Homo sapiens: one gene and its partners. The protein of the gene in region 1 interacts with the protein of each later gene in a pairwise test. Each region holds a gene or a part of one and is shown in the gene's direction. Other genes may lie near its edges. The genes, in order: ERLIN1, SEC22A, SEC23A and AGR3.

Region 1 (7,873 bases):
TTTAGAATTTCTGATTTAGGGGAGAAACTCATATCCTAAGTTAAATTAATACCAATGGATTTAATGAATTTTAATGCTGTTCAATATGTAGTCTTTTTTTTTTTTAATCATTGAGGAATGTGATTGATTCTTGGTAGATTTATCTTATATCTACAACTTGAATTCACTGCCTTCTAGTAATTTTTGGGTTACTATTTTTACAGTCACTATTATATTTTTTTCCTTTCCATATATTTATATACCATTTTTCTTCTTGAAAAACTACTCTGGCAAATTAGAATGATGAAAATGGTCATCTTTGATTTTTTTTTTCCTATGTTATTTAAGGGAGTGACTATATTATAGACTGGCTTTTGATATATAATATATGCTTAAAACCCAGGGGTCAGTTTCAATACATATATTCCTTTCATTAGCCATTTTTTTCCTCCATTCACTCTATGTATGTGAGTGGGATGGGGGCATTATTTTATTATTTGAGGTTAAGAGCAGAGGTTTAATAGGCAAAAGAAACAGAAAGGAGAATAGCTCTCTCTCCTGTGAGGGAGAGGGGTGCCTGAGTGGGACTTCCCACTTTTACTTTTAAAATCTCTTTTGATGCAACTTACTCATGGTATCTGTACAGTAAGTGTTTATGTTTTCACATATTTGAAAATCTGTGAGATTTCCCAAGATTGGCAAGCACAATGTAGTATGTTCTTCAGCCTCATTCAGCAAAATAGGAGTCTTCAAAAGACAGTCCTGGCCGAGTGTGGTGGCTCACGCCTGTAATCCCAGCACTTTGGGAGGCCGAGGTGGTTGGATCACCTGAGTTCAGGAGTTCGAGACCAGCTTGACCAACACAGTGAAACCCTGTCTCTACTAAAAAACAATACAAAAATTAGTCGGGCTTGGTGGCGCATGCCTGTAATCCCAGCAACTAAGGAGGCTGAGGCAGAAGAATCGCTTGAACCTGGGAGGCGGAGGTTGCAGTGAACTGAGATTGCACCACCGCACTCCAGCCTGGGTAACAAGAGCAAAACTCCATCTCAAAAAAAAAAAAAAAAGTCCTACTTTACGCTTCTTTTAATAAGGCTAAAAAGATATGTGGCCAGTCTCTTAATTAAATGCAGTATGACAGTGCTTCCTTGAATCATATTAATCCATATTGGAAGTAATCTTATGTCTGCTAGTCACATGGTGAAATCTGACATCTCACAAAATCTGGTCCTGAATTTTTATTTGTCTTCTGCATGTCTCCACTGAGTTGTGAGGCCTCACATGTGTCACTGCCAGTGTGTTGTGAGTTTTTTCCACACAGCCTTCAGCTGCTTATTCCATTCCACTGTAATCCTTATATTTAGTTATGATTGTCCTCAAAATTACCTACAAATTTGACTCATCTATTTCATATAGGAAATGCTATATCGCTTAAAAGTTTTAAAAGCCTTTAAAGAAGACTAAGTGCTTAAAGGCTTTGTTATTCTTAAAAGGTTAGCCAGTTTTCAGAAGGAAAACTTCTTCAGACCAGCAAAGTGTTTTTTGTGTGTGTTTGCAGTATAGGTGGGGCGGCGGGGTATCGTATGTTTAGTAAAATCAAAAGCTTTTGAGAGATCAAGTCCTTGATGTAGAAAAGTCAGCCTTCAAAAAACAGTACTGTCCAGGTAGATAATCTTAATTGTGTCAAAGAACACTATGATTAGGGAAACAAAGTGTCTGGTAAACAGCCTCTACAAAGACAGACTTTGTTCTAAGTGAGAGTTAAGGAAGAAAGAATATAAGCTTTTAATTGATATTTGTTTTCCTTCAGCCAGTGGGCTGTTTACTTACAGCAAATACCAAGTGATTGCAGGGGTTGGAAGTGATAGATTAATTTACTCACTACTCACTGTATTAAATTGTATACACCAACCTGGGTTTTTTTGTTTGTTTTTGTATTTGACTAATTGTTTCTGACTTTACAATTTCAGTCTTGGAACTTTGCCTTCCCGGCTTCTTTGGTTTACAGGGTTGAAAAAGAAAGCAAAAGTATCTAACGACCTTTGTAAAACATCTTTTAAGTGAGAACCTTTTTCATAAGGCAGTTGTTTCCTCAGTGGGTAGATGGTTTTTCCTGTAATCTGGCATTGTGTAAGGAAATAAGAAGCAGCTTGTCTTTGATTCTTGGTGTGATGGCATGAAAAGTAAATGTTCTGGTGGGATCCCCAAACGTGTTAGTAGGCCGCTATATTATAGCTGTTGTTTATTAGATTAGTATCATTTGAGGGGCTTTTCTGTAGAAGATTTAATTTGAAGATTTATCTTTCAAATATACTTTGGCTTTTTCACTTTTATTTTTTAGGCTGTGCGTGTTACAAAACCCAAAATCCCAGAAGCCATAAGAAGAAATTTTGAGTTAATGTGAGTAATATGCATGGGATCCCAATATTTCTGTTTAGGGCTGTCTGCATATTAATATTCCAGTCTAGAGGAAACATGTGAGACAATACACTCTGGGGTGGAGTATGTGTCTTATCTTCTTTACTCTTACTCTAGTAATATTGCCTATTCTTGTGTCTTAATTCCCACTAGACTCTTACTAGTGTTCTCTTTATGTATGGACATTTCAGGAGCAGTTTCAGTGGCTAAAGATGCAGTTTGCTGTAAAACTATTGCTGGAAGCTTAAGGAGCTATAATTTTATATGAATAGTACCTTGAATTAAATATTTAATAGAGGAAAGAGTCCTGAAGCCGTTAGGGTTGAAGAGAGTGCTCATATTTTGTTTCTGTGTTGTAATGGTAGGAATAGATACCTTGTTGGTATAAAGTTTGGTTTTCCATTGTATGTGATTGTATATCTAAAATTAGACCTGGTTCTTTATAATGTGCCTCTAGGGAAGCCTTGCTTCTGTTGACTCCTGGTAGTCTTCTCTTTTATGTATCCAGGGCTGACTGGGAATGAGAAGACATGAAATTAGTTTCTGACAGGATCCCTTTTAGGGGAATACTTACTGTGTTTGAAATGGCAATATTGTTTTCGTATGACTGGTACTGAAAAGAAGAAATAAAAGTCTTTAGGAAATTTGGCTGATGTGTTAAAAGGGAAAGTATAAGACGCTGGAAAAATAAATTTGCACAAGTCAAGGATACCACAGATGTATAAATACTGGAAGTCCAAGGAGCAGTAATACTACTTTATGAGGTTGTTTACTTCTGAGTCCTTTTTGTTACCATGCAGATTTTTATTGTTTTTTTCTTCTTTTATATTTTCCTTTTCCCTCATACCTTCTCTGAGCTCATACAGAGTTTTATTTCTCTTTTTCTTAATTTTTTTTTTTTTGAGACAAGGTCTTGCTCTGTTGCCCAGACTGCAGTGCAGTGGCACAATCACGGCTCACTGCAGTCTCAACCTCCCAGGCTCAAGTGATTAAGCGATCCTCCCACCTCAGCCTCCTGAGTAGTTGGGACTACCAGTGCATGCCACCACACCTAGCTAAATTTTGTATTTTTCATAGAGACGGAGTTTTGCCCTGTTGCCCAGCCTGGTCTCAAACTCCTGGGCTCAAGCAGTCCTCCTGCCTTGGCCTCCCAAAGTACTGGGATTACAGGCTTGAGTCACCACACCCAGCCTGTTTTCTCTTTTTCATTGTAGACAAAGAACTCTTCTTTTAAAAGTATAAAATGTAGACTGCCAGGCTGGGTAGATTATGGATGTGATCCACTTATTGAAAAAATATTTATAGGCGGGCTGTGGTGGCTTATGCCTATAATCATAGCACTTCAGGAGGCTGAGGCCGGCGGATCACCTGAGTTCAAGAGTTTGAGACCAGCCTGGCCAACATGGTGAAACCCTGTCTCCAGTAAAAATAGAAAAATTAGCTGGACATGGTGGCAGGCACCTATAATCCCAGCTACTGGGGAGGCTGAGGTAGGAGAGTCGCTTCAACCGGGGAGGTAGAGGTTGCAGTGAGCCGAGACCACGCCATTGCACTCCAACCTGGGCAAAAGAACGAAACTCTGTCTCAAAAAGAAAATTTTATTAAACTGTCAGCATGTCTTAGGCTTTAAATATGATTGCTTAGGCTGGGTGCGGTGGCTCATGCCTGTAATCCCAGCACTTTTGGGAGGCCAAGGTGGGCGGATCACGAGGTCAGGAGATCGAGACCATCCTAGCTAACACAATGAAACCCCGTCTCTACTAAAAATACAAAAAATTAGCCAGGCATGGTGGTGGGCGCCTGTAGTCCCAGCTACTCGGGAGGCTGAGGCAGGAGAATGGCGTGAACTCAGGAGGCGAAGCTTGCAGTGAGTCGAGATAGTGCCACTGCACTCCAGCCTGGGTGACAGAGTGAGACTCCATCTCAAAAAAAAAAAAAAAAAAAGATTGCTTCTGGTGACGGAAAAATGAATATTGTGTGTTTTCTGCTCTCAAATAAATCATAGTATTCAGACTGTCATTTGATGTCTTTATCAATGTTATCAGAGGAAAGGGGAAACTTTGAGGGGAAGTGTTTTGGGGAAACTATTGGAGTTACTTTTCAGATGATTCTGGATCTTTCTTAATTTTATGGACTATTGGAATTCCAGAATTAAAAGCTACCTTGGGATGATCCAGTATAACCTTGCACCTGATAGTAGTGTTTTCTTATACCATTTCTGCCACGTGGTTACCCAGTAGCTACTTGTACATGCTTAGTAATATGCCAGCCATTTCCATTACAGGTTTAGTACCCCTTATCCGAAATGCTTGGGACCAGAAGTATTTTAAATTTTGGATTTGTAAAGATTCTGGAATATTTGCATAGACATAATGAGATATCTCAGGGATGGGACCCAGGTCTAAATATAAAATTTATTTATGTTCTTCCTTGTTGGTATAGTGGTTAGTTTTTTTTTTTTAAGGTATTTTATTTATGTCCCATATACACCTATAGCCTGAAGGTAACTTTATAAAATATTTTAAATAATTTTGTGCATGAAACAAAGTTTACCTTAAGTGCTTATGTGTGGAATTTTCCACTTGTGTCATAATGTGGGCTCTCAAAAAGTTTCAGATTTTGGAGCATTTTGGATTTCAAATTTTCAGATCAGAAATGCTCAACCTGTATTAGACACTGGAAGCCTTAGAAAATTCTCCTTACTGTAAGCCCCAGTTTACTACCTAATAACTACCACCTAGTTATATCTTCTGTGCAACAAATATGGTCACTGCACATGGGTGCCCACCTGAGGAGGGCAGGGGCTGAAACCCAGCTTCATTCTGCATGTCAAACCATGCACCTGCAGGACTGTAGAAACGGCTGGTGCCGTTTTCTAATTGGCACAGAGCTGCTGTATGGACTAGCTGGAGGTCTAACAGCAAAGGAAGTATTGATATATTCCCTTCCAAATCACAGGCTTTACACAATACAACTAGGAGAAGAAAGCCAAACTAAAATTCAAATGTACTAAATTTTTTTCCTATCTCTGGGTGACTTTGGGCAAATCATTGAATCTTTCAACCTCAGATTTATTATAAGTAAAATAAAGTAACACCTCTCTTAACCTACCTTAATGGGTCCAAAAGCTCATGTTGACAAAACGGTTCTCTGACTCACTGTAGGGTCAGAATTACTGGCTGTGACTGCACATAGGAGAATCATTTCTAATTTTTATAACATTTTGCTTCACAGGGAGGCTGAGAAGACAAAACTCCTTATAGCTGCACAGAAACAAAAGGTTGTGGAAAAAGAAGCTGAGACAGAGAGGAAAAAGGCAGTTATAGGTACTTGGATTTCTCTGAAATGATTGTCTCTAAGTACATTTGTTTGTCCTGTTCTTTGTCAGTCTCATTTTGGGTATCATGGGACTCAGTAAGATTGCATCATAGGTAGTGGGGAATTCTGGAATCTCCACTGTACATTCAGATGTTCTAAAGCCTTTAAAAGTAGGTGAGACCAGTACTTAATGATGTGCTGTGGCTGTCCATCATGTTGTTAGATGCTACTGTTGTCTCTTTCAAGAACAGGGAGAATGGATAGGGTTTATAGGCAGCTTGAGTCTGTGGATAGCATTTTCATTTGTACAGATTAAGAATAGGGAAGTTTTTTGACCAAAGTTTCAGATTGTAGTATGCATCCTTGTTGTTGACATGCACTTAGTTTTACCTGGATAGGTAGTGCCGTTTATGAAAGCATGGCAGGATTGTTTACAGTTCATTTCAGATTACAGTGGCTTCCCTTATACTCCAGGTCACTGTGTATTAGATTGCCCTCTTTGGCCCTCGGTTGATGCTGAAAGTTTAATACATCTTTAATTAAATAATTCAATTATAGAGGAATGTACAGAGAACAATATAATGAAAGCTTAAGATTTTGCCTTATTCCCTTCAGATCTTTTTTTTTTTTTTTAAGAAAAAAATTAAATATCTGTTTGAAGCCTCCTTTGTATGTTCACTGGTCCTACTCTTTGACTTTTCTTCTCAGATTAACTTCTATTCTGAAGTTGATGTATATCCTTTCTGTCCATATTTTTATACTTTTACTGTAAGTGTGTAAGAGTTTATAAAATTGTTTTACCTGTTTGAAACTACAAAAATGTTACCAAACTCTTATTTTACAACTTGCCTTATTTTCACTAACATTGAGTTTTATTCATATTGATACATGTAGATCTAGGGATTTTTTCTTTTTTTGGCATTTTATCCTTATTCTCTGTGAGATGGTAGATCGTTTATGTTTAGCTGCTACATTTTTCGTTCTATGAGCGGGCCTAGTTTTATTGTAATGAATTACCAATGAGGAGTTAGGTAGTTTCTAGTTTTTCCTTATTACAAACACTGCCACAATAACATTCTTATCCAGTGCCTCCTGGATACAGTGTACATGTGCAGGTTTCCATAGAGTAGCATTACTCAGTGTATGGTGTGGGCCAGTGCCCTATCACCAGCTTTTTGTTTCTGAGCCTCAATGAGATGAGTATAGAAATTGAGAATGAGTGTTTAGAAGTTTTTATAGCATTTTAATACAGCAGTTTTATGTCTGTTGAATCAAAAATAAAAAATCAGAGCTTATATATTTATGTTTTTGTTTTTTAATTTCTTTTTTCTAGTACTGTAATTTGTTTTTGTTATAGTTTACAATTTATTGGTTCCTCATAAATTGAAATACACACACAAAAAGGTAAGGTATTTTTCCACAGGTGGTTTGAGAAGCACTGCTCTAGAATAGCTATCTCAAAGTAGAATTGATGGGTCATAGGGTAGCATGTCTTCACATTCAACATATTGACAAATTGCTCTCTCAAGTACTTCTTTGATTTTACCATCTCTTCAACAATATTTGATATCCAGTTTCTATGCTGCCATATTTGAATTCCCATTTCCACACATCCTTCTTGGTCCTTGGAGTTATCAGACTTAAAACTTTATGTCTGTTTAATGGAAGACATGGTATCACATAATTTCAATTTGAATTTCCCTGATTGTTAGTAAAGTTGAATATTGCTTATTGGTCATTCAAGTTTCCTTTTTTGTTGTTGTTATATGAATTGCCTGTTAATGTCCTTAGCCCATTATTTGATTGCTTTTTTGAGTTGATTTGTAAGAGTCCTTTCTGTCTCCTGGATACTGATCCTTTTTCAGATTTATGCATTTCCAACATCTTTCAATTTGTGGCTTGTCTTTGAACTTTACAATGTCTTCGATATACATATATGTGTAGTTTTTGTGTAGACAAATTCATTAGTCTTTTCCTTTATGTTTTGTGCTTTTCCTATCTTAAGAATTCTTTCCCTAGTCCAAAGTAAGACTTTTATTCTAAAAGTTTTAAAGTTTTGCTTTTCATATTTAAGTCTTTAGCCCATCTAGAATTTATTTTGGTGTTGAGTATGACATAGGGATTCAGTTTAATTTTTTCAAGTGGCAAGCCAATTGTC
Region 2 (7,567 bases), on another chromosome or scaffold:
TTTTTTTTTTCTTTTTTCTTTTTTTTCTTTATCTTCCTGTGGGTTACTTTAACATTTTAAAAGATTTCCATTTCAGTTTATCTGTAGTATTTTTTAGTGTATCTATTTGTATAGCTTTTTAAATGATTGCTGTAGGCATCACGTAATACATACTTAACTCTTCATGGTCTTCTCGTGTCAATATTTTACTAGTTCAAGACACCTTATCTCCCTAGATGTGTTTTTGCCCTCCCCTATTTATAATTGGCTCAGATATTTCCTCCACATATATTTAGAACCACATCAGCCAGTGTTATAATGATTTTTTTTTAACCATCAAACATAATTTAGAAAACTCAAGAGGAAAAGGAAAGCCTATTGTATTTACCCATATTTTTGCATACCATGTCCTTTTTTCTTTCCCAATGTTTCAAGATTCCTTCTTTTTAATTGTTTTCTTTCTATTTAGAGAGCTTCCTCTAACCATTCTTTTATGGTAGATCTGCTAGCAGCAAATTATCTTAATCTTTCATCTGATAAATGTTTTTATTTTCCTTTTATTCCTAAAGGATATTTTTGTTGAATACAGAATTCTGGATTTGGCAGTATTTTTTTCTTTCAGCACTTGAGAAATGTTCTAGTTTTTTTCTGGCCTCTGTGGTTTCTGATGAGAATCCCACTGTCTTGTTACCGATGAGAAATGAATTATCTTGTTACTGTCAAGTGAAAGTGGGTGTCCAGAGTCCCACGTGTTCTCCACTGATATCACAATAAGAGGGTAGAGGAGGGATTCATTGCCATCTAGTGGGAATGAAAGTCCTGGCTTCTACTTGCCTTTTCTGAAGCCATGCTGAAGGGTTAAAACATCTGCTTATAATGTTCTAGGCTCTCAACATTTGATGGTGTGGGTATGGGTGGGTCACAGGGGTTTTTTGTGTGATGTTTGGCTAGAGGATAATAGTTACTGTTTAAAAGTTTTCTGTCTTGCTAAGGTGCCTCTTTCCTGGTCTTTTACCAGAGAGAGCAAGATGTTATTGAGGGTCTTTTTTGTTGTTTGTTTTGATATGCATGCCTTGGCATTTCTAGTTGCCAGCTTCTTCAGCTCCAAGTCTGGGATATATGAAGCAAAAAAGAAAACTCAGAGAACCTACCACTGTGGCATTCTTGGATCTCAAGATTCTTTATTTGTCTGCTTTTCCTCCACAGTTCAGAGTCTTCTTATGCTTGTTTTACATATAATGTCCAGTGTTTTTATTTGTACTTAGTGGGAGAAATAGGGAAAAGTGTGTCTACTCCATCTTCCCAGAAACAGAAGTCCCTGAGCCGTTGTTTTTAAAGTAAGTTACAGACATCATGATATTTTTTACCTTAAAATACTTCATGATGTATCTTCTAAGAATACAGACATCTGTCTACATAGCCAGGACTTCATATCACATCTAAGAATTTAACATTGATACAATATTATCTAATATATGATTCCTATTCAGATTATTTCTGTTGTCTCCAAAATGTTTTCTGTGGCTATATTTCTCCTGATCCAGGATTATGCATTTCATTTGATTGTCGTGTACCTTTTGATCTATGATACAGTCTCCCAGCCTTTTTGTTGTTGTTCTATTTTAGTTTGGTTTTATCTTTCTTAACATTGACTTTTTTAAGAGTTCAGGCAAGTACCACAATCTGGATTAGTCTGTTACTCGTGATTATATTAAGGTTAAATATTCTGGCAACAGTGCTGTATAGTATAATATGCTGAATATCTCTCATTGCTTCAGTCAGGAAATGTGATAAGTTTGATCATTTGGTTAAGATGGTGTCTACCAGATCCCCATTGCAAAGATATCTTTTTCTTCTTTGTAATTAATAAGTAATATGTGGGGTAGAGACCTATTATTTTAAAAGCCTTGGAAAACCTTGAATTAAATATATGTGTGTGTGTGTGTGTGTGTGTGTGTGTGTGTGTGTATATATTACTGGAAATGCTAGCTCATTTTTACAGTAGCATTCCAAGCAATAAATATAGATAAAAAATGGAAATATAAAATCACCATTAAGCGAACACCACAGTAATCATTGTTGCAGGCAAGAATCATTAATGGATACTAAAATTAATGAGCAAAAGTATGATGAGATAAGATATTCACATAATCTCAACTCCCTGCCCCCAAGACAATAATTGCAAAGGGAATAGATACCACCTTATTAAGTGATCTAATTTAATATGTAATAACATGTATTGCGTATCACCTCTGATATTCTTGCCAAAATTGTATAACCTCATTTCAATCTTGACAAAACATCAGACACACCCAAGTTGAGGGACATTCCTACAACATAACTGATTAATACTCTTCAAGACTGTCAAGGACATGAATTTTTTTTTTTTTTTTTTTTTTTTTGAGATGGAGTCTTGCTCTGTTGCCCAGGCTGGAGTGCAGTGGTGTGATCTCGGCTCACTGCAACCTCCGCCTCCCAGGTTCATGCCATTCTCCTGCCTCAGCTTCCCGAGTAGCTGGGACTACAGGCGCCCGCCACCACACCCGACTAATTTTTTGTATTTTTAGTAGAGACAGGGTTTCACTGTGTTAGCCAGGATGGTCTCAATCTCCTGACCTCGTGATCCGCCTGCCTGGGCCTCCCAAAGTGCTGGGATTACAGGTGTGAGCCACCATGCCTGGCCAAAAATTTTTTTAAAAAAAGATGGAGGAGCTGTTACAGATTGGAATATACATGACAATTAATGCAATACAGAATCCCAGATTAGATTCTGGACCAGAAAAAGGACCCTAGTGGGACAATGGGCAAAATCTGAATAAAGTCTGTAGATTAGCTAAGAGTATTGAATCAATGTTCATTTCCTGGTTTGATGATTATACTATGATTACATAAGAGGATAACGGGGAACAGGGTGAAGAGTATACAGTAAACAAAGCGTATACAATAAACTGTTTTTGCATCTTTAACTCTAAAATTGTTTAGAAAGAAAAAGCTATTTTTTTCTATTTTTTCAGTCTTATATGATGAAAATCACTGATAAATACTTCCAATTCATTTTGCTTGGATAGCAGTCTTCTTTTTAAGTAAACAGTCCAAATTTGCATAAGAACTAAACATATTTAACAGAACATTTCCACATTCTTTCTGCATTATAACAGACACTGGTGTGTCCTTCCCATTCTGAAGCCTGGACACAGTTTCTCAGAGAGACCTGGGCCTCTCTCTTAGACTTTGTGGTTCCTATACTTACCAGGTTGTGAATTTTAGACATCTTCTAGAAAACAGTTTATTCACTCAACACATTGAGCACTTACTATGTCCCAGGCACTGTTCTGGGCACTGGAGATAAATGAGTAAATAACAGTAAAAAATCTCACCCCTCATGAAATAGATTCTGTTGAAAGCCTATGGATGACAAACAAAATAAGCACATTTCTCAAGTATGTTTATAGTATGTTGTGGAGAAAAATAAAGCAGTAAAGGGTGAATGCCAGGATGGGCAGGAGCGGTGAGAGGGGGAGTACTTTCTTGACCGTTTCATCTAAAATAGCACCCACTATCATTCTTACTCCCTATCCCTTTTTCCTGCTTTCTCTTTTTCAAGACATAACTGTTTGATATTATATATTTAAAATACATTTATAATTCTTCCCCATTAAAATTTAATATTTATATGAACAAGGGCTTTGTTTTACTTACAACTGAAGAACAATGCCTGACTTGTAGCAGGCCCTGAGTAAATATTTGTTGAATGAATTCTCCCTCAAATGTTCAGTCAGATGCTGTACCTAGCATAGTTCCTTGTACTCAGTGGGCGACTAGTAAAATGTTGTGGATTTTGTTAATACTCAGACTCAGGTTATATTAAGAGTCCATTTTGTAGAATAGCTTGTATGTGCTTTTTTGTATTTTCCTGGGTGAGAATGGAACACCCGCAGACCCTGGGAATGCTTCTTAGTTGCCTGTCACCATGGGGAATTTGCTCAGCCTGTTTGCAAGGAAGTCATTCCATTGTACTTCCATTTAAAATATGATACAAAATGCTTTTCTTCTGAAAAATGAAAAACTTAAGAGGAAAATCTATTTCCCTTTCAAACTGTGAAACTTTCATAGCTGAATGTCTTAGATATATGCTACATTATCTTATCCCTAGATAAAAAATAACCTTATCCATTCTTATATTTTACTCTCTGACCTGTTACAATTTTATATTAGAAACATCTGTTTCTTTTCCTGTAACCCTAATCATCTTTCATTTTTATATTTTGAACAGTGTTATTTACTTGTCTACTACACCGGCTGGCGGAATGTCAAATCTTTTTTGACTTTTGGCTTAATCTGTCTATGCAACATGTATCTCTATGAACTGCGCAACCTCTGGCAGCTTTTCTTTCATGTGACTGTGGGAGCATTTGTTACACTACAGATCTGGCTAAGGCAAGCCCAGGGCAAGGCTCCCGATTATGATGTCTGACACCATCCTTCAGATCTATTGCCTTGGCTTCAGGGGGATAAGGAGGGAACATATCATAACTGCACTGTGATGAAGAAGCTGTTCCCCACAGAGGAGAAGCTCTGCTTTCTTTCTCTCCAACTTTCCTTTTTTAAAATCAGCATGATGTGCCTGTGAGCATGGAAGAGTCCTCTCAGAAGAATGTTGGCCATGAGACTATCATTCAGAGGAGGAGGGGATTTCTCTCTTCAAGGCCGTAACAGTGGAAGAACAGTCATATGCCATTGGAAGTCTTGGCCAGCAGTCCTGAATCCTTCCTGAAGAGTTCAGAAAATAGATGTGGTATTGCTCTGAGGACCAGGCAGGAGGAACTCTACAACCTGAGTTTGCCTTTGTGAGGCATTAGTATAGACCAAATAAAAAGCTGCAGAAATTGGAAAGTTTATGTTTTAAATAAATGACTGTGATAAATATCAGATTATTTGCACACTTATGGTACTACGAGTTTATAAAGTCCAAGATGGTGTGAAATTGGTTCTTTTTACTTTTATATTTTTGCTTGAATCTTAACTCTGGAAATCACCTGATGTAGAAGAAGACTGTGATGAGCTCGTCTGTGGAACATCACAAGTATCGAAAATACAGTAATGGATGTTTCCTTTCTAATCCACATTTATTGTTTCTTTTGAAATCACGTCTAAAAAATATGACTCACACTATAGCCGTTGTTTCCCAAACTTCAGTCTCTTTAGTACTACTTGTATTATTTTCTTAATATTTATCTTTTAAATTTTAAAGTTTTTTTAAAAAAATGAATCCTGCTCCAAGTGGAAAACCAGTATCAGTTTGCCATAAATAAAAGGTAACCACAAAATAAGTAAGATGAACACAAAAAATGTTGTTCAGTTCTAGCTAGAAACTAATGCCTAGAAAGGCTCCGAATCTTAGGCTCTTTCTTTGTGGCAGTGAGGGAGATGTTACCAGCACCAGCATGAGGCACTGTCTCTGGAATAGTCAGAGGATAAAAGGAAACTGTAAAGGGAATGACATTCTCACTGTGATTCAGCATTATTCTATGTTGTGCATCACTTAAAGACATGTTGTGTGCCACCAGTGGCATGGGTCCGCACTATGGAAATGCTTGACTGTAGTAAGAATCAGAAGGTGGCTTTCCTAGCAACTCATTATTTTATGGCTTTGAGGAATTAAGCCCCTAGTATCTGAGAGAACTTACTTGTTTTTTGATAACGTTTTAAAGATTGTTTAAGCAGTTATGAATTAATAATATAGGAAGCACAGTTGGATTCCACTAGCAAAATCTATAACTCTCATGGTTTTGGAAGTCATCTTCATGGGTGATTTTCCTTTGTTTTTTAAAGAAAATATTTCAAACAAGGAATTCATAGGATACTGAAATTTGATATCATCCAGAAAAACAGATCCCATTACATTGTAATTGTTGTTACTAGGCATATTTATTAAGTAGAGAAATAGAGGGTAAAAAGTTAGTGAACTGTCTTGTTTGCGTGAACCAGTATTTGTGGATATGTCTAGAACTGTAAAATCTTGCTTAACTAGAACCTTAGTCTGCACCCTCCTTTTAGGAGAATGAGGTAAAAGGAAGACAATAAGCTTATGATATCAGGGATTCATGTAAAACAGGAAATAGTAGTTGGCTCCAGTCTTCTCCTCTAACAAAAGTATGCATATTCTGAGAGATACCCCAAGGCATCACAAGATCCTGAATCATCAAAACACCATTGAATTGTGTTGGGCATTTTGTAGCCAGGAAAGTGAAGTGGTTCAATTTAGAAAGGGTTTCAGGCCAGGCACGGTGACTCAGGCCTGTAATCCCAGCACTTTGGGAGGCCGAGACAGGCAGATCACTTGAGACCAGTAGTTTGAGAATCAGCCTGGCCAACGTGGTGAAACCTCATCTCTACTAAAAATACAAAATTTAGCTGGGTGTGGTTGCGCGTGCCTTTAGTCCCAGCTACTCGGGAGGCTGAGGCAGGAGAATCGCTTGAACCCAGGAGGTGGAAGTTGGCAGTGAGCCAAGATCACGCCACTGTACTCCAGCCTGGCCAACAGAGCGAGACTCTGTCTCAAAAAAGAAAGGTTTTCTAAACTAATGGTTAAAACAGAATTTTCTTGTAAATAGGGAAGTTGGAGCATTCTGGTTGAGATTTTGCTCTGTATTGACACAGCTCGCACCAGTTTGGTTCAGGAGCTACCTCCTTGTCATTGAATTGACGAGTTACAATGTTTGGTATTCGGATACATTCAGCAAGAACACTTGAAAACTCCTCACCAACTATTTTTAAAGGCTTACTTTGTTTTTGTTTTTATTTTTTCACTGGCTATTTTGGATAAGAGGATGTTTACATCTTAATGTAAAAAAATGAAAACAGGTATAAATGTTTTATGTATAGAAATGTTTTCTTTCATTATTTGGTGCCTGTATCTCCGTGTTTATATCATTTCCCCACCTGTATCATTGCTGCCAAAAAAAGAACTTTGAATTTAGAAAAAGAAATTGGTGTAAAGTCCTGGCCGGGCACGGTGGCTCATGCCTGTAATCCCAGCACTTTGGGAGCTCAAGGTGGGTGGATCACGAGGTCAGGAGTTTGAGACCAGCCTGGTCAACATAGTGAAACCCCGTCTCTACTAAAAATACCAAAAAAAATAAGCTGGGCGTGGTGGCAGGCGCCTATAGTACCAGCTGCTTGGGAGGCTGAGGCAGGAGAATCGCTTGAATCCAGGAGGCGGAGGTTGCAGTGAGCCGAGATCACACCACTGCACTCCAGCCTGGGTGACGGAGTGAGACTCTGTCTCAAAAAAAAAAAAAAGTCCTTAGGCTCTTTAGAAAGAATCACTTTAGGCCTCCATGGTGTATGATCTTCTGTTTCTATTGCACTTCTAAGAGCAAGCCTGAGTTTACCTCCTCATAGTTTTGTAGCATAGGAGCAGTAGTAGCTGCCCTCACTCTAAGGGGGAGGACACAGAGGTGATCAGATGGTAATGACTTAGCCAGTTCACATAGCTAAGCACACACAACCCTGATCTAGTGCAGGGCTCTTCGCACTAGCATGGAACTAGTGAAGGTGACCAGTGTTATATTCAGGGAATATGACT
Region 3 (7,873 bases), on another chromosome or scaffold:
AGGCCTCCCAAAGTGCTGAGATTACAGGCGTGACCTACTGCACCCAGCCAATATTTACTATATGTTAAAAGTTATATTCACCATTTAGGTAAACTTGTATATGTTAAAAGTGTGAATTAGATATTGGCAGTATCTAAAACTACATGGCTTTTAAAAGTTACTTTGACTATCAATTTGAATATGTTCATGTTTTAGGAAGAAATTAATTTTATTGAAATTAGGATTTTTGTAAAATTGAACTGAAATATGAACTGATATGTCTTTTCTTTTTTTTTAAAACAGTCAAGTGGATTATCGAGCAAAACTTTGGGCTTGCAACTTTTGTTACCAAAGGAATCAGGTAAGAAAACATCCATTGCATGCCGGGCGCAGTGGCTCATGCCTGTAATCCCAGCACTTTGGGAGGCCGAGGCGGGTGGATCACGAGGTCAGGAGATTGAGACCATCCTGGCTAACACAGTGAAACCCCGTCTCTACTAAAAATACAAAAAAAAAATTAGCTGGGCGTGGTGGCAGGCGCCTGTAGTCCCAGCTACTCGTGAGGCTGAGGCAGGAGAATGGCATGAACCCGGGAGGTGGAGCTTGCAGTGAGCCGAGATTGCACCACTCTACTCCAGCCTGGGCAACAGAGCAAGACTCCGTCTCAAAAACAAACAAACAAAACAAACAAACAAACAAATGAAAAAAAACCCATAAAACATCCATTGCAGATGTTAATGCCAAAATACTAGTCATGTAGAAAAATGCATATTTAAAAAAAGATACAAATAATTATTTCTCATTTAATGAAAATGCCTTTTTAAAAATAATTAAATGATCAGGAAATACTTTGTTTAAAATTTTATTAATCTTTCTAGCCTATAATTTGTTAAAAATTTTTGTTTGTTTTCTATTTGTAGTTTCCACCTAGTTATGCTGGTATATCTGAACTGAATCAGCCTGCTGAACTTTTACCTCAGTTTTCTAGCATTGAATATGTAGTTCTGGTAAGAACCTAAGAACAAATATTTAAGAAAGTTTTAAAATTTATACTGAAAGAATTGTTAAATTATGATGATTTAGAAGGAATCATGCTTAATTCTCACATTGATTTGATGGAACATTTCAAAGGTAAGAACTGTTGAGGTCAGTTTGAGCAGGGTAATTCCTATGTTGTACTTATTTGATGGGTGGCCAAGATACTGGGTAGGGTGGTGTGATTTGCTATACTGAGTAGATCAGTAAACAATAAAGTATAAATCTTGCTTTGTAGTTGGAAGGTCAGTTAACAAATATTTAGTCAATATGATGCTGGAGTTGGCTAATGTATCCCCCAGGTCTAATTAATGAAAATAATCTTGCATTGGTCTTTAGGAAAATCATTTTTATTCTCTTTCTGAATACTTAACCATAGTTGTTTACATGTTTTACTGTGGAAGTAATATCTTTTATGAATGTTTTAGAGAAAACAATTATGGTTCACTTGGACCATTCAGTAATTTGTCCAGCCTGGCTAGTTTCTAGTTATCTGAAAATCCAAGTCAGGTTTACTAATTATTTTAAAAGAGTCAAATGAAACCTTATGCATGTAGTTAAATAAAATGGAAAGTGAAAGTCCCCTCTGTGTAACTATACCTCATGTTCTTAAACTTAATTTTTCACCTGATGATATGTCTTAGATCTCTCTCCATGACAGTAGAAATAACCTGTTTCATTTCTGAAATGGCTTTACTAGGATTCTTTTGTATTCGTTATTTAATTAGTTCCCTGTTGACTGTCTTGTATGCTGTGCTTTAAACTACATATTTTTTCTTTTTGGTGAATTTTTTAAAAGCGTGGTCCTCAGATGCCTTTGATATTCCTCTATGTGGTTGATACTTGCATGGAAGATGAAGATTTACAAGCCCTGAAAGAATCCATGCAGATGTCATTAAGTCTTTTACCACCTACAGCTTTGGTTGGACTTATTACTTTTGGGAGAATGGTTCAGGTTCATGAACTTGGATGTGAAGGCATTTCAAAAAGCTATGTCTTCAGAGGAACAAAAGATTTGTCTGCCAAACAACTGCAGGTAAACAACAAGAATGGTAGTTTTTACCTATCTGAAAATTACTCTATATATGTTTATAAATGCCTTCTGTATGTTTCTAGGACAAATTTTTATTATGAATAACTAATATAATTGTATTATAACAAAGGCTTTAAATTCAGTGCTGGCTTCAGTTTTCTTTTCATGTGCCTTAAATTGTTATACAGATTAAACACCCTTCACTTTTAACTATATCTTTAAAATTTAAAGTCAAACCAACAGTATTTTACTAGAGATTTGAAGGGCTTATGAAGAGTCATGCTGAAGGCTAAGAGAGAGCAACTGCAGAATATTAGCTTGTTTCTTTTTTTTTTCTTAAGAGTTCAGCTTTTTTATTGAACATGTTATAAAAGAGGTTTAGTCAAAAAGACCAAAGTCCATGTCATCATCATACTCCTCAGGTTCTTCTTTCTTTGTTTCCACTTTCTTTTCCTCAGCTGGGGCAGCAGTGGTGGTGGGGGCAGGACCTTCTGCAGGTGCAGCACCAACTGTTGGAGCAGGTCCACCAGCCCCTACATTGCAGATGAAGCTCCTGATGTTGACATTGGCCAGTCCTTTGCAAACAAATCAGGCCAGAAAGGTTCAACATTTATATCAGCTGCTTTAACAAGGGCATTGATCTAATCCACTGTGATGGTCACCTCATTGTCGTGCAGAATGAGGTCCAAGGAGATACAGAAGAACTTGAGATGGAGGCCATGATGTGGGCGAGTGCAGGGCTGGTGCTGCCTGACATGGTGCTAGTCACCTGATGAAGTGAGGGTCTCACCCCAGTGTGGTCTTGGCTTCCTCATAAGAACCGAGAACCTTGGTGGCAGCTGAGGAGAGAGCTTTTATTTCTTAACATTTCACTTAAGAACTAAATACTTTTAGTATGTTTGGTGAGGGAAGTTATTTTGAGACTGGACGATTTTTAGTGTAGGAACTATGGTTACATATGTTTTTTAGTGGTTTTTATCACTGGGACAAATTGAAGCTTTCTCTTCCAAGGCAAAGGAGTTATGTGTAGCATACTAGGATCATCTGCTCAGATGAACATCTTTTTTTCTGCCCAGAGATTTTGATAGTCCATAAGAGAGTAATAAGTGAATGTCTGTTTGTATTGGGGGATAGTTGGTATATATACCTTATATATATAATATAAGATTGTTCATGTAGGTACTTTGAAAAAACTTTCTAAGTAATTCTGGTGCAACTCCTAGTTGAGAACATTTACCCTAGAAGATGATAGATAAGCCTGGCATAAAGTTGACAGATGTAAAATCAGACTTTAGAGGCTTCCAGGTAGACCAAAATGAAGAAGAAAGGAAGAGATTTTTGAGGGTGAGTCTAATTTGAAACTTGGCAGACTGAGGTAGTGGTGCTGCAGTTAACTAAGAGAACATACTAGGGGAATTTGCAGGTTTAAATGGGGAGGATAATGAGTAATGAATGCGTTAGTCAATGAATAGTGAATAAGATTTGAGAAGGTAGAGAAAGTTGAAATTTGTTCTTTTTCTTCTGAGACAAGAGTCTCGCTCTGTCACCCAGGCTGGACTGCATTGGCACAATCTTGGCTCACTGCAACCTCCGCCTCCCGGGTTCAAGCTATTCTCCTGCCTCAGCCTCTCGAGTAGCTGGGACTACTGGCACCCGCCATCATGCCCAGCTAATTTTGGTATTTTTGTAGAGACGTGGTTTCACTATGTTGGCCAGGCTGGTCTTGAACTCCTGACCTCAGGATATCCACCTTCCTCGGCCTCCCAGAGTGCTGGGACTACAGGAGTGAGCCACCGTGCTCGGCCTGAAGTTTGTTCTTTTAAGAGGTTTGTTGAAGGTAATGAAGGAGGAGATAGCATGGGAATTTGAGAGAGAACTGAGTTAAAGAGATGTACTTTAGGAGGAAGGAGAAAGGAAAGAGACTAAAGAGGGTGAGTTAAAGCAAGAGTGAGATGAGGAAAGTCAGGTTTAGGAAGACATAGTAGGGATTCCTTCAGGAGCACAGGAAGCGGAGTACCTTAGAGAGGAGAATCATGTTTCCATGAGACAGGAGAGAAAGTGAACCAGTTGAAATCTCTGTGCTTTAGTTTTTTTCAATTGTAAAATAGAGATAGTAATAGTATATACCTTATAGTGTAGTCATGAGAATTAAATGAATTGTACATTTAAGCATTTGCTACTATTAATGTTATTATTAAATTATGAATTTATTTAGAATAGTTTACTGTTCTGATTGTAGAGTACCTTTTACTTATATAATGCATATGAAGCACATAAAACATCTTCCTTTTTTTTTCTTTTTTTTTTTTTTTTTGACACGGAGTCTTGCTCTGTCACCCAGGCTGGAGTGCAGTGGCATGATCTTGCAATCTCCGCCTCCTTAGTTCGAGCGATTCTCCTGCCTCAGCCTCCCGAGTAGCTGGGACTACAGGCGCATGCCACCACACCCGGCTAATTTTTTTTTTCTGTATTTTTAGTAGAGACCGGGTTTCACCATGTTGGCCAGGATGGTCTTGATCTCCTGACCTCGTGATCTGCCTGCTTTGGCCTCCCAAAGTGCTGGGATTACAGGCGTGAGCCACCGCGCCTGGCCAATTTTTGTATTTTTTAGTAGAGACAAGGTTTCACCATGTTAGCCAGGCTGCTTGAATTCCTGAGCTCAGGTGATCCCCCTGCCTCAGCCTCCCAAAGTGCTGGGATTACAGGTGTGAGCCACTGAGGCCGGCCTAGTTTTTTTTTGTTTGTCTGAGACAGAGTCTCGCTCTGTCACCCGGGCTGGAGTGCGGTGGCACGATCTCAGCTCACTGCAACCTCTGCCTCTTGGGTTCAAGCGCTTCTCTTGCCTCAGCCTCCCAAGTAGCTGGGATTACAGGAGCATACCACCATGCCTTACTAATTTTTGTATTTTTAGTAGAGTTGGTGCTTCACCATGTTAGCCAAGGTTGGTCTTGAACTTCTGACCTTGTGATTTGCCCACCTTGACCTCCCAAAGTGCTGGGATTACAGGCATGATCCACCGCACCTGGCCCTAATTTTTGTATTTTTAGTAGACATGGGGTTTCACCATGTTGGCCAGGCTGGTCTTGAACTCCTGACCTCAGGTGATCCACCCGCCTCGGCCTCCCAAAATACTGGGATTACAGCTGTGATTCACTGCGCCTGGCCACATCTTCCTTTTTTCAATAGGCAAGTGAATGCCTGCAGACTGAATTTTTTTTCTCCATTGAAACATGTTTATTTTCTTTCCCTATTTAGATTAAATTTCCCTATTCTTTCCCTATTATTAGTTGAAAAGAGCCTGGCCTTTGCTCCCCAGATAGTCCTGGATTCAAATCTTAAACTCTTCTGGTTGTATGATCCTGGGTTTTTGTCTTTGCTGATTGTGTCATCCTTCATAGAAAGGAATAAACTACCTATTTTGCCAGGTTATTAGTACTAAATATGAAATTCTCAATATGGTGTAAACCCTTATAGAGCTTTATAGAAAAACCTGGATTTAAAATCTTGCTTTGTTACTTACTGATTGTGTAACCTCAGACAAATTACTTAGTCTTTCTGATTGTCAATTTTCATTTATAAAGTAGAATTTAAGAAGAAATCTATTTCATTATTGTTTTGTGAGGAAATAGTATATATAAAGGTTTTAGCATAGAATATGGAACATATTAAGTTCTTAGTAAAGAGTTGCTGTTTCTGCTAACAGTATAGGAAATATTGCAGGATTAGTTCACTAATTTTATCTTTGTACATCTTTAGACTTCAGTTTTCTGTTACACAGTTTTATAACTCCAGTACTTCATGACTAAGCATTTCTAGATTCAAGAAAAATTTAGTATAACATTATTTTCATTTGTCTAGAGAGAAATTGTGCACATATCTGAAATTCAAAACAAAGGTGGCAGTTCGTAGTTTGGTTATGAATTACATTAGAAAATCAAGATGTATATAGGTACAAAGTACGTGAGCCTTATAACTCCCCAAGTCCTAACATTTACTACTGTTGCAATTTTACATTTATTTATCTGTTGATTTGATTAATTTATGTTTCTGGATTTTAATTTCCATGAGGGAAGGGACTAGTTAGTTTTTACCATTGTATTCCTGCCACATAGCAGGTGCTTATGATATAGTTTGCTGAAACGGATGAATGAATATAAATTAAGAAGTATGGACATTTAAGTTACACAACAATTTATTTTGACTGTTAATTAGAAATAAAGTGTTTTTGAGCTAATATGCCTCCTCTTTGGTTATATAACACCTTGTGCTTTTCTCTCTCATGATGATTATTTTGTGTTATTGTTTTCTTGATAATCTCTCCCACTGGATTCTTTGTTTTCTGAGGAAGGAGACCTTGTATTTTTTATTTTTGTGTTTCTAATGTCTAGCACAGCATTTTATACATGATAAATAGTTGATAAATCTTTGTAAAAGTAATTAAATGAATATTGCACAAGTAATCTCTTTACAGGAAATGCTGGGGCTCTCTAAAGTACCACTTACTCAAGCAACACGTGGTCCTCAGGTACAGCAGCCACCTCCTTCCAACAGGTAATAAATATGATGAAGAGAATTTGACCGTTTCTGTAGCTATTTTAAACATTCCATACCCTTGAACATAGGCATTCAGTGATACTATATTGTTAAATATTTTTAGGAATATAAGTAAATTGTATTAACATACTTTTTAAAGAATTGAGTCAAAATCATGTCATTAAAATGGTTTGTTTTTTGTCTTAACAATGTAAGGAGTTACTTTAGTTTTGTTATTTTCCTTATTTTTTATTTTGAACTTTGGAAAAAACTTGTTTTTGTGTGGTTTTAGGGCAGCCAAGGTTTTTATTTTTTCTTCTTAGCTTTAGAGGTAGCTTTTCCCGCTAAGGTTTCTGGAGTGCAGTGGCATGATCTTGGCTCACTACAACTTCCGCCTCCCAGGTTCAAACAATTCTCCTGCCTCAGCCTCCCAAGTAGCTGGGATTACAGGCATGCACCACCATGCCTGGCTAATTTTTGTATTTTTTGTAGAGACGGGGTTTCACCATCCCAATCTCCTGACTTTATGATCCTCCCTCCTCGGCCTCCCAAAGTGCTGGGATTACAGGTGTGAGCCACCGCGCCCTGCTAGCTTTTTCCCCTAAGCTTTCTAATCAGAGGTAGTATTACTAAAATTTAGTTGATGTATTTTCTCATAATTATTTCAGTAACCTAAAACTTACTAGACTAGTGAGAGATGAAATCCTGAAGTACTTGGTTTGAGTGTTTCGTTTATTGTGGTTGTATTCAAAATGTGGTTTCTGGGGCTGTTATCATCACGTGTCACCTAGGAATGCGTTTGAAATGCAAATTCTTCGGCTCCACTCCAGACCTACCGAAACAAACTCTAGAACTGGGACCTAGCAATATGTGTTAAAACAAGCCCTCCAGCTGGTTCTCATATACACGAAAGTTTGAGAACCATTGGTCTGCTGTGTGTTCAGAGTGTTGTTTTCTATTTTTAGGAAAGTGAAATTTGTTTATCGAACTCTCACCCATAAACATTTACAAATGGCTTTTTATTTAATTCTGTTTCTTAGATTCTTACAACCAGTACAGAAAATAGACATGAATCTCACAGATCTTCTGGGAGAACTCCAGCGAGACCCTTGGCCTGTACCACAGGGAAAGAGACCTTTGCGTTCCTCTGGGGTGGCACTTTCCATAGCTGTAGGACTGCTGGAGGTAGGGAAGATGGTTTTGTTTTGGAATGTAAAGTGTGTGTGTGTGTGTGTGTGTGTGTGTGTGTGTGTGTGTATATATAATTATAAGGATAAGAAGAACCAAAGTGCT
Region 4 (7,980 bases), on another chromosome or scaffold:
ATGAATATATTTATTTTTTCATGTTAAAACATAACTTTTAAAACTCGGATCACATTATAACACCTTATTTGCCATCTTAAAAATGTTCTTTATCCTCTAATCTCATGGTAAGACCACATCCATATTCTCCAGCCTGTTGAACGGAGCCAAATGCCCCACACATCACTCAAGAGCCCTACCACTCTTTCCTCCCCACACCCGTTATTGTCTCCCTCCTTTCCCTGCTTCTGTTACTCTCTGGCTCTGCTTTCTTCTTCCCATTTTCTGTATCTATTCTTCATCTACTTGAGAACTATTTGGGGATCTCACTTCAGATTTACCATGGCTGCCTCCCAGCTCTGCACAATCCATTTTAATTTTATTCATGTCTTCCAAAACAGGCCCTCCCTGACCTGGGCTGAGGAAACTGGCCAGGCTGAGTCCCTGATCTCCACCATGGCAGGAAAAAATGATATGCCTGTTTAAGATATAAAAGCATTTTTATGGGAAAAAGTACAAAGTTATCACGACAAGCTACAGGTAAGAGCCTGATTGAAGGACTTGAATCTCTAATCCAAAAGCTACATGCACAATTCTACTTAATCTTACTTAGCTCACAGGGCAAATACCAAGGAATAAATCTCATTTATATTTATATTGTAAAAATACCACAGGTTTATCAAGTGTTTAGATGTAATACCCTGCAAGTTCAGAGACTTTATGCTTAATGGAAATAAAACATTATTGTTTTGCAATGGGAAGTGTAACTAATTTTGACAGAGCAAGAACCTGTAGGTTACAGACATTGATTATGAGAGGCTTATAAAAACACTATGCATTTAAATGTTTGGTATAAAATTGCACAGCTCAATAATGAATTCTGGAGGTATCTATTCCTTTAACCCAAAGAGTCTTTTTTCTCCAAACCCAATATTTTTAAAAATAACTATTTGCCTCTACAGGATTTAGAAAACAGTGATACATAAATGCTCTCTGCAAGACATTATTCTCTTTCATTTACTGAATAGTTTCACAAATACCTGTCCTAATATGGTACAATCTTCAATATTATTACATAAAAAAGAGGTTCAGAAGTATTCATTGAATGGCACCATTTGTGTTAATATACAAACATAAATAGGTAGATGTATAAACCGTTATTGCCTCAAGAAGACCCATAGACTGGGCAAGAGGAATACCTACTTTCCACTGTCAGCCTTTTAAAATGTATATATATTTTCTTAGTAAGAGACTGATAAACTGAAATACAGACAAACAGATGGACACATACACACACACACACACACACACACACACACAAAGTGAATAGGTAATCCTAATCCTATATTTAACCAATGATTTATGTGACCAATTAAACTTGTAAAAATATAGAACAATGCCCTCAAAAGAATCAACTCCAAGAGCAAAACAGCTTGATTTATTATTAAAAGAGTATATAATTAGACACACTTATATTCTGTTCCTGAATAGAATGAAACAGAGAGGCCCTACAATTTTGTAGCTTGGAAATTTAATGAAACATTTAAAATAATTATAAGGCAAGATGACTTATGTTACTTGTTTTATCTTGTAAAATTTTCTGTTGAAGAAGGTACTCTAAGCAGAGGCTAAAAGACAATATTTGAGATAATATTTCAGTAAGATTAAAATTAGAATTAAAACTGTCCTCCAGTGAACTGAACTTTCTCAAATTACTGGGTAACCCATCGGCTATAGAAAAATTATTTTCTTAATTAAAAATAGGATGTAATATGACCTACAGGAAGAGTCAATTGAAGCTGTTGACAATTCCAAATCCATTAACCGTAAGATTGATTTTGAAGATTATTGCAGGCAATTTTATGAAAAAATAAATATGAGGTCACATTGAAAAAATAAAGACAGTTAATGCCAGAAAAATACCAGCCACCTGGTATCAGATAGGTACAGTTAAGAAAATGATTAACATAATTATATACAAAGAATAATTTGTATAATTTGCCATCATGTACATGAATATACTTTAAATAATTTTACTTCTAAGAATAATCTTTCATAGAACCATTTGTGATCTATTACACAATAAAACAAATTTTGGATGACAAATATATATTTCAAAATATTATTTTAAGATGCTATAATTCCAATGACTTTATTACCTCCTTTTACTTTCAAAATTGTCCTGGGTTAGAGGACACATTGCATTATCACCCTAGTGGGAGAGACCAAAAGACACTGATCAGCTCAGACATTATAGGGTCTAGTTTCACTACCCCACAGGTACTCGACTTCCTCTTTCTCACTCTTATCTTATAATTTATTTAAATGAATATTATGTGAGAAGTTTAACAGGGATGCAGAATATTTGGAGATTTTTCCGTAACCACTCTCAGTCAACAAGAAGTTGAAAGCTTTCCCAGACTTTTCACTAACAGAGAAATATAAGGATTATTGCCCAGCCATTTCTTTGCTTTGCAAAGGCTGGCTGGATTTAAAATTAAAATTATATGTCAAGTTTCATAACCTTCAGCAAGAAGGATTCCATTTGAATAGCATGTTCCAGGGAAGGGTCCCTTTGAGAATCCTATGTAAGGAAGAAAGCACAGTTAGACAAGTACACAAATCAGCAGTACAGTTAAAGAATATACAACCTAGCTACATGAAGTTTCTTTCAGGACAATGGAAAGTTTAATTAGGAAAACAGTAAAATTTTCTATAACAAATGAGAAAATCCATATGCCCATCTTTATAGAACAAAATCCAACAGTCCTGCTTTTAAGAGATGTAGTTTAAGAATAATGGTTACCTTCTTAACATGGTCAACTCAGCCAAATCCAGCACTACATCTAAAGTTAAAATACTGGAAGCACACCCGCTTTAACATCAGGAGCAAGACAATCATCACTCCCATTCTTGCACAGTATATTTGTTAATGTATTCAGAGCAATTAGACCCTTCCCCACAAAAAAAAGAAACAAAAAAAGGGTGGGAGAAGGGAGGGATGGAGGGATGGAGGGATGGAGGAAGAGAGGAAGGGAGGAAGAGAGGAAGGGAGGAAGAGAGGAAGGGAGGAAGAGAGGAAGGGAGGGAGGGAGAGAGGAAGAAAGGAAGCAAAGGAAGAAAGGAAGGAAAGAAGGAAGGAAGGAATTTATAAACAATACCCTGGATTAAGGTTCAACAAACATTTTCTGTAAACATTTACTAAAGATAGTAAATATTTTAGGTTTTGCAGATCATACAGTCCCTGTCACAAGCACAGTTGACCCTTAAACAACATAGATTTGAATTGTGTGGGTTCACTTAGAGAAGGATTTTTTTTTAATATATTCCTTCATATGGGCAAGTTCTGTATCCACAACCAAAAGTGGATCAAAAATACTGTGTTCACGGGATGCCAAACCTGCATATGCGGAGGACCAACTTTTCATATCTGTGGGTTACGCAGGGCCAGATATGGGACTTTGAGTGTGCACAGATTTTGGTATCCACTGTCCTGGACTGTACCGGACTTTGCTGTTGCAGTGCAAAAGTAGCCATAGACACTAGTAAGCAAATGCACATGGCTGCATGCCATCCGCCACATCTCTCTCTACTTAAGGACACTGAAATTGAATTTCATATAACTTTCACATGTCACAAAATATGATTCTTTTGGGTTTTTTTCCCCAACCGTTTAAAAATGTCAAAACCGTTCCTGTTTCCTGGGCTGTACAAAAAACAGGTATGCCAAATTTGATGACACACTGCCTTACGTTATTTTAACAGTAATTAAATAATTACTCTCAATTAATTCAACAGTATCTAACTATTAGATAAATTTAAACTTATCTAATGGCCTGTTTTTCTAATTTTTTGTGCAGTAAAGGTTTTATAGAAAAATTGTAAAGAATAATCAAATTATGAAAATGTTCAACTTTAAAACAGAATTTTTATTTCCTTCTCTCTCAAAAAAAAAAGGACCCAATCTCTTTAGCTGTTAATTATATTCCTGTAAACAGAGTAACCCTTAGGAATTTCTATTTGAACAATGGCATGCACACAGTTCTTAAATTCATTCCGTTTTCTTTCTTCCTTTTCTTTTTTTTTTTTGTGCTGAACTTCAGCCAAACATTAAACTACCTTGGGAAATAAAAGGTAAAAGAGAAAGAAGCACAAAGATGGTATTTGACCTTATTTTATGAGGACATTCAATCTTAATTTAGAGAAAAAGAATAGAGCTTTTTTAGTGTGAGAAGCATGAGAACTGGAAAGAAGTACAGAGTTTTTCAGACCAGCCTATTTTTCTAAGTTTGTTTTCCGGTAACTATGCTCTTGTTTCTATGCAGGTGAGGTTGTAGGTCAGGTGTGTGTGTGTGTGTCTATAAATCCACACCCATTTTTAACCAGAAACATCCAGAATACATTTCCAACAAGAGCACTGGCCAAGTCAGGTAAGCAAGCAAATTTTCCAGATTACTTAATCAGTGGTCAAGCTTTGCTATATTTAAATAATCACCTTTTGCTATTTAAAAGTGAAGCTTTCAGTAAAGGGTAGGAAAGTGAAATGAATTTTTATTTTTCTTCTTTTACTGAACTGGATTTCCTTTGCTGGTTTCATAGTTTTATCTCTATTTATATTAATGGTATTAGAATAAATTGACGTCAACCACAAAAACGACTCTTTGAAAAGTATTCTACAAGTAATGATAGCTCTTCTTTATATTCTTTTAAGTCTTGTTTTATTTTAAAATATAGGAACTTATAATATCAGTTACTTACGTTAAATTACTTTTGAAAAATAAAATACTAATGTCATAAAATGCTAATTGACCAATGTTTATACAATCTAATTGCTGACATATGGTTATGTGCCTCCCAAATGCATTTTAAGCTGCTGTAGGCCTGTAACCATGCCACATTTATCTGTGTTCCCCCAAGTAGCTTAACCTTGCAACTGATACTAAAGGACCCTCAGCAGTTTACACTATATTTTACCAAGGAAAGCGTTATTTATTCAAAATCTACAGTGTACAAGTTGTACTGCTTTGTCACAGAATATATTTAATATCTATTTTATAATTTATCAATGTAAAACCAGAAAACCAAGATTTTTATTTTTTAATTAGAAAGTATTTGACAATAATACATAAAGACTTGAAATTTTAAAGAAAAAATGGTTCCCGCTTAACTCTAAGCTTCGCAGCTTTAAAATAGCAAAAATGATGAGGTTATGCTTTTTCTTTTTTAAAATGCAGATTCCACCTGCTTGTCTCTGTAGCTAACATAGAAAAATCTTTCTAAAGATTCCTTCCAGATTGACTTTTCTTAACTCTTCTTTATATCCAAGATCCCTGGAAGAATTTTAATGACGTTTTGGACCCTATTCCCACGGAAAAGGAACAGAGGCAGATAAAATTTTGCACACAATTTCCAGGGGTTTTGAGCCTTCTGTAGCTCAGCCACAGGCCTTCTAGAAGCCTGCTGGATCCAGGTTAAGATCCTGTCCTAGGTGGTTGCTTTAGTTCCTCCACTGCAACTCCCAACCTGTCTAACTAAGGCTGCCTTCCCTGGGTTGAGCTTTGTGTTCCAGAGTCAACTGTCCCTGTCCTGTACTAAAATCCACCCTGTATTTGTTTCAGTCTTTAAAGTACAAGATGACCAAGGCCTTAAGGTACAAGATGACATTCTGAAATGTTTTATGGTTTAATAAGTTATGAGAACTTAAACTGAAATTCTTATCAGGCACCGTGATAATTGTTTAACAGGGTTTTTATATGCCTGGAAAGAAAGGACAGGAAAGGAGGGGAAAGGAGGGGAGAGGAGGGGAAAGGAGGGGAAAGGAGGGGAGAGGAGGGGAGGGGAGGGGAGGGGAGAGGAGGGGAAAGAGGAGGGGAAAGGAGGGGAAAGGAGGGGAAAGGAGGGGAGAGGAAAGGAGTCCGGGCGATGTAGCTCACCCTTGTAATCCCAGCACTTTGGGAGGCCGAAGCAGTTGGATCATTTGAGGTCAGGAGTTTGAGATCAGCCTGGCCAACATGGTGAAACCCCATCTCTACTAAAAATACAAAAATTAGCCGGGCATGATGGTGGACACCTGTAGTCCCACGTACTTGGGAAGCTGAGGCAGGAGAATCGCTTGAACCTGGGAGGCGGAGGTTGCAGTGAGTGGAGATGGCCCCACTGCACTCCAGCCTGGGTGACAAGAGCAAAAAAAAAAAAAAAAGAAAGAAAGGAGAGAGAAAGAAAAGAAAGAAAGAGAGAGAGAAAGAGGAAGGAAGGAAGGAAGGAAAGAAGGAAGGAAGGAAGGAAGGGGAAAGAAGGAAGGGGAAGGAAGGAAGGGGAAGGGAAGGAGGGAGGGACAACTGGGGATTAGGGAGGGAAATAAAGTAAGGTTAACCTGGAGTGGTAACTATTTTCAGTCCATAGAGGGGCTGCAATAGATACACCACTGGGAAGGGGAAAACAGTATAATGGGAGGAATGAGGAAATGTCTGGAGAAATCTAGAATCTGTAAACTTCTTTACCACCAAATTGTTGTTCTCCTCCACGACTGCGGTTGCTACTTTACAATAACTAGGTGATTAAAATTGCCAAATGTTTTACCAATGCCAAAACATTGTGTCTTATATATCTTTTCATTTTCCACAATGCCTACTACAATAAAATATAGCAACATCTTTGTTTGAACAGAATCACTAAAGAATCAGTCACTAGCCATTTTGGCTAAGGAAATTTTACTATTTTGGTGATGAGTTCAATACTAAATAATGTAAGCCAATAGGAAAGACGTCTTAAAGGAACTTCAAATCAATGTGAATGATGTCTGTATATTTATTTTATATTTTGAGGTAAAGTTTCAAAACTGCATGAGTCAACCATTTTCAAATCAGTTTTATATGCTAATGCTGTAACTAAACATCTCACAAGTATTAAAGACTTCCTGTAATATATTTATCAAGTGGTTTATGACCAGATCAGGCCCAACTTTGGACTTCAGTTTTTATCTTAACGTGCAAAGTATAAAAGATGCACATTGAGTTAAGAATCAGTTTGAATTCTAGCTAACCAGGAGAGAATGTAATCATGACAGTCTATTCTTCTCTATACATATGTCTAATTTATAGTAATATGATAGTACTTGATTTTTATAAAGAGCTGTATCATAAACTGAAGGGCAAAAGTCTGAGTAATTGTTGGAAGGATGAGAAAGGTAAGAAACTATAAAGGAACTGAAGGACAAGAATCCTCCATATTCTATTTTTCCTCTGATTTCTATTTTAAGCAATATTTATTCATGTATAATCTTATCTTAGTATAGAGTTAAAATATTTTGACCTATTAGATGAAGGAGAATCAAAAGGCAAAGAATATTTCTGCATGCTAAAAGTCACTTCATAGTTTACAAGACATCAAACAACATGATCTTATTTGAGTTTCGTCTTGTTGGTGTGAACACTACAGGGCGGTTCAGAAGCAGGCTTCGTGTGCCCTGATCCAGCTCTTTTTTAATTATACAGCACCATGCCCAGGAGGCTCAGAACATGACTTCTCACCAACTGAGCATGTACTGAGTTGATTAAGTATTTTAAAAATAAAATGTGAATGAAAGTTCTATGTGGTTGGTTATACCATGTCAAACCAAAAAAGCTGAACAGTCTGTCATCACAGTATTGGTCCAACTCTTAGCAAATATCTTCTAATAATAGCTTGAAGTAATTCACTGGATTCTGAGAATTCCTTTCTGTCATCTAGCTTCTTCTGAGAGAGTCTCTAGAAGACATGATGCTACACTCAGCTTTGGGTCTCTGCCTCTTACTCGTCACAGTTTCTTCCAACCTTGCCATTGCAATAAAAAAGGAAAAGAGGCCTCCTCAGACACTCTCAAGAGGTGCTGTAATCTCATTTTATTTTCTAAACTCAGTCATTTGGATTGCTTTTTAAAATATCTGGTGTCTTCACTCATAGTCTAATTATAAAGCAAATTCAACTAACTGAATGATTTTTGTTGTGTGTGACTTCAAAATG

The links.
Region 2: the proteins of ERLIN1 (region 1) and SEC22A interact in binary tests that used the Homo sapiens proteins (3 or more experiments, as listed by UniProt).
Region 3: the proteins of ERLIN1 (region 1) and SEC23A interact in binary tests that used the Homo sapiens proteins (3 or more experiments, as listed by UniProt).
Region 4: the proteins of ERLIN1 (region 1) and AGR3 interact in binary tests that used the Homo sapiens proteins (3 or more experiments, as listed by UniProt).

Annotation. Positions count from the first base shown.
Region 1 is NC_000010.11:100,161,854-100,169,726, reverse strand, and holds part of ERLIN1 (erlin-1), read left to right. Parts: intron 1-2,320; coding exon 2,321-2,379; intron 2,380-5,631; coding exon 5,632-5,723; intron 5,724-7,873. UniProt on the Homo sapiens protein: Component of the ERLIN1/ERLIN2 complex which mediates the endoplasmic reticulum-associated degradation (ERAD) of inositol 1,4,5-trisphosphate receptors (IP3Rs).
Region 2 is NC_000003.12:123,267,270-123,274,836, forward strand, and holds the end of SEC22A (vesicle-trafficking protein SEC22a), read left to right. Parts: intron 1-4,252; coding exon 4,253-4,453; 3' UTR 4,454-6,867; downstream 6,868-7,567. UniProt on the Homo sapiens protein: May be involved in vesicle transport between the ER and the Golgi complex.
Region 3 is NC_000014.9:39,085,654-39,093,526, reverse strand, and holds part of SEC23A (protein transport protein Sec23A), read left to right. Parts: intron 1-282; coding exon 283-340; intron 341-899; coding exon 900-986; intron 987-1,813; coding exon 1,814-2,050; intron 2,051-6,518; coding exon 6,519-6,598; intron 6,599-7,620; coding exon 7,621-7,765; intron 7,766-7,873.
Region 4 is NC_000007.14:16,878,373-16,886,352, reverse strand, and holds the start of AGR3 (anterior gradient protein 3 precursor), read left to right. Parts: upstream 1-4,369; 5' UTR 4,370-4,409; intron 4,410-5,597; exon of another isoform or gene 5,598-5,629; intron 5,630-7,707; 5' UTR 7,708-7,734; coding exon 7,735-7,843; intron 7,844-7,980. UniProt on the Homo sapiens protein: Required for calcium-mediated regulation of ciliary beat frequency and mucociliary clearance in the airway. Might be involved in the regulation of intracellular calcium in tracheal epithelial cells.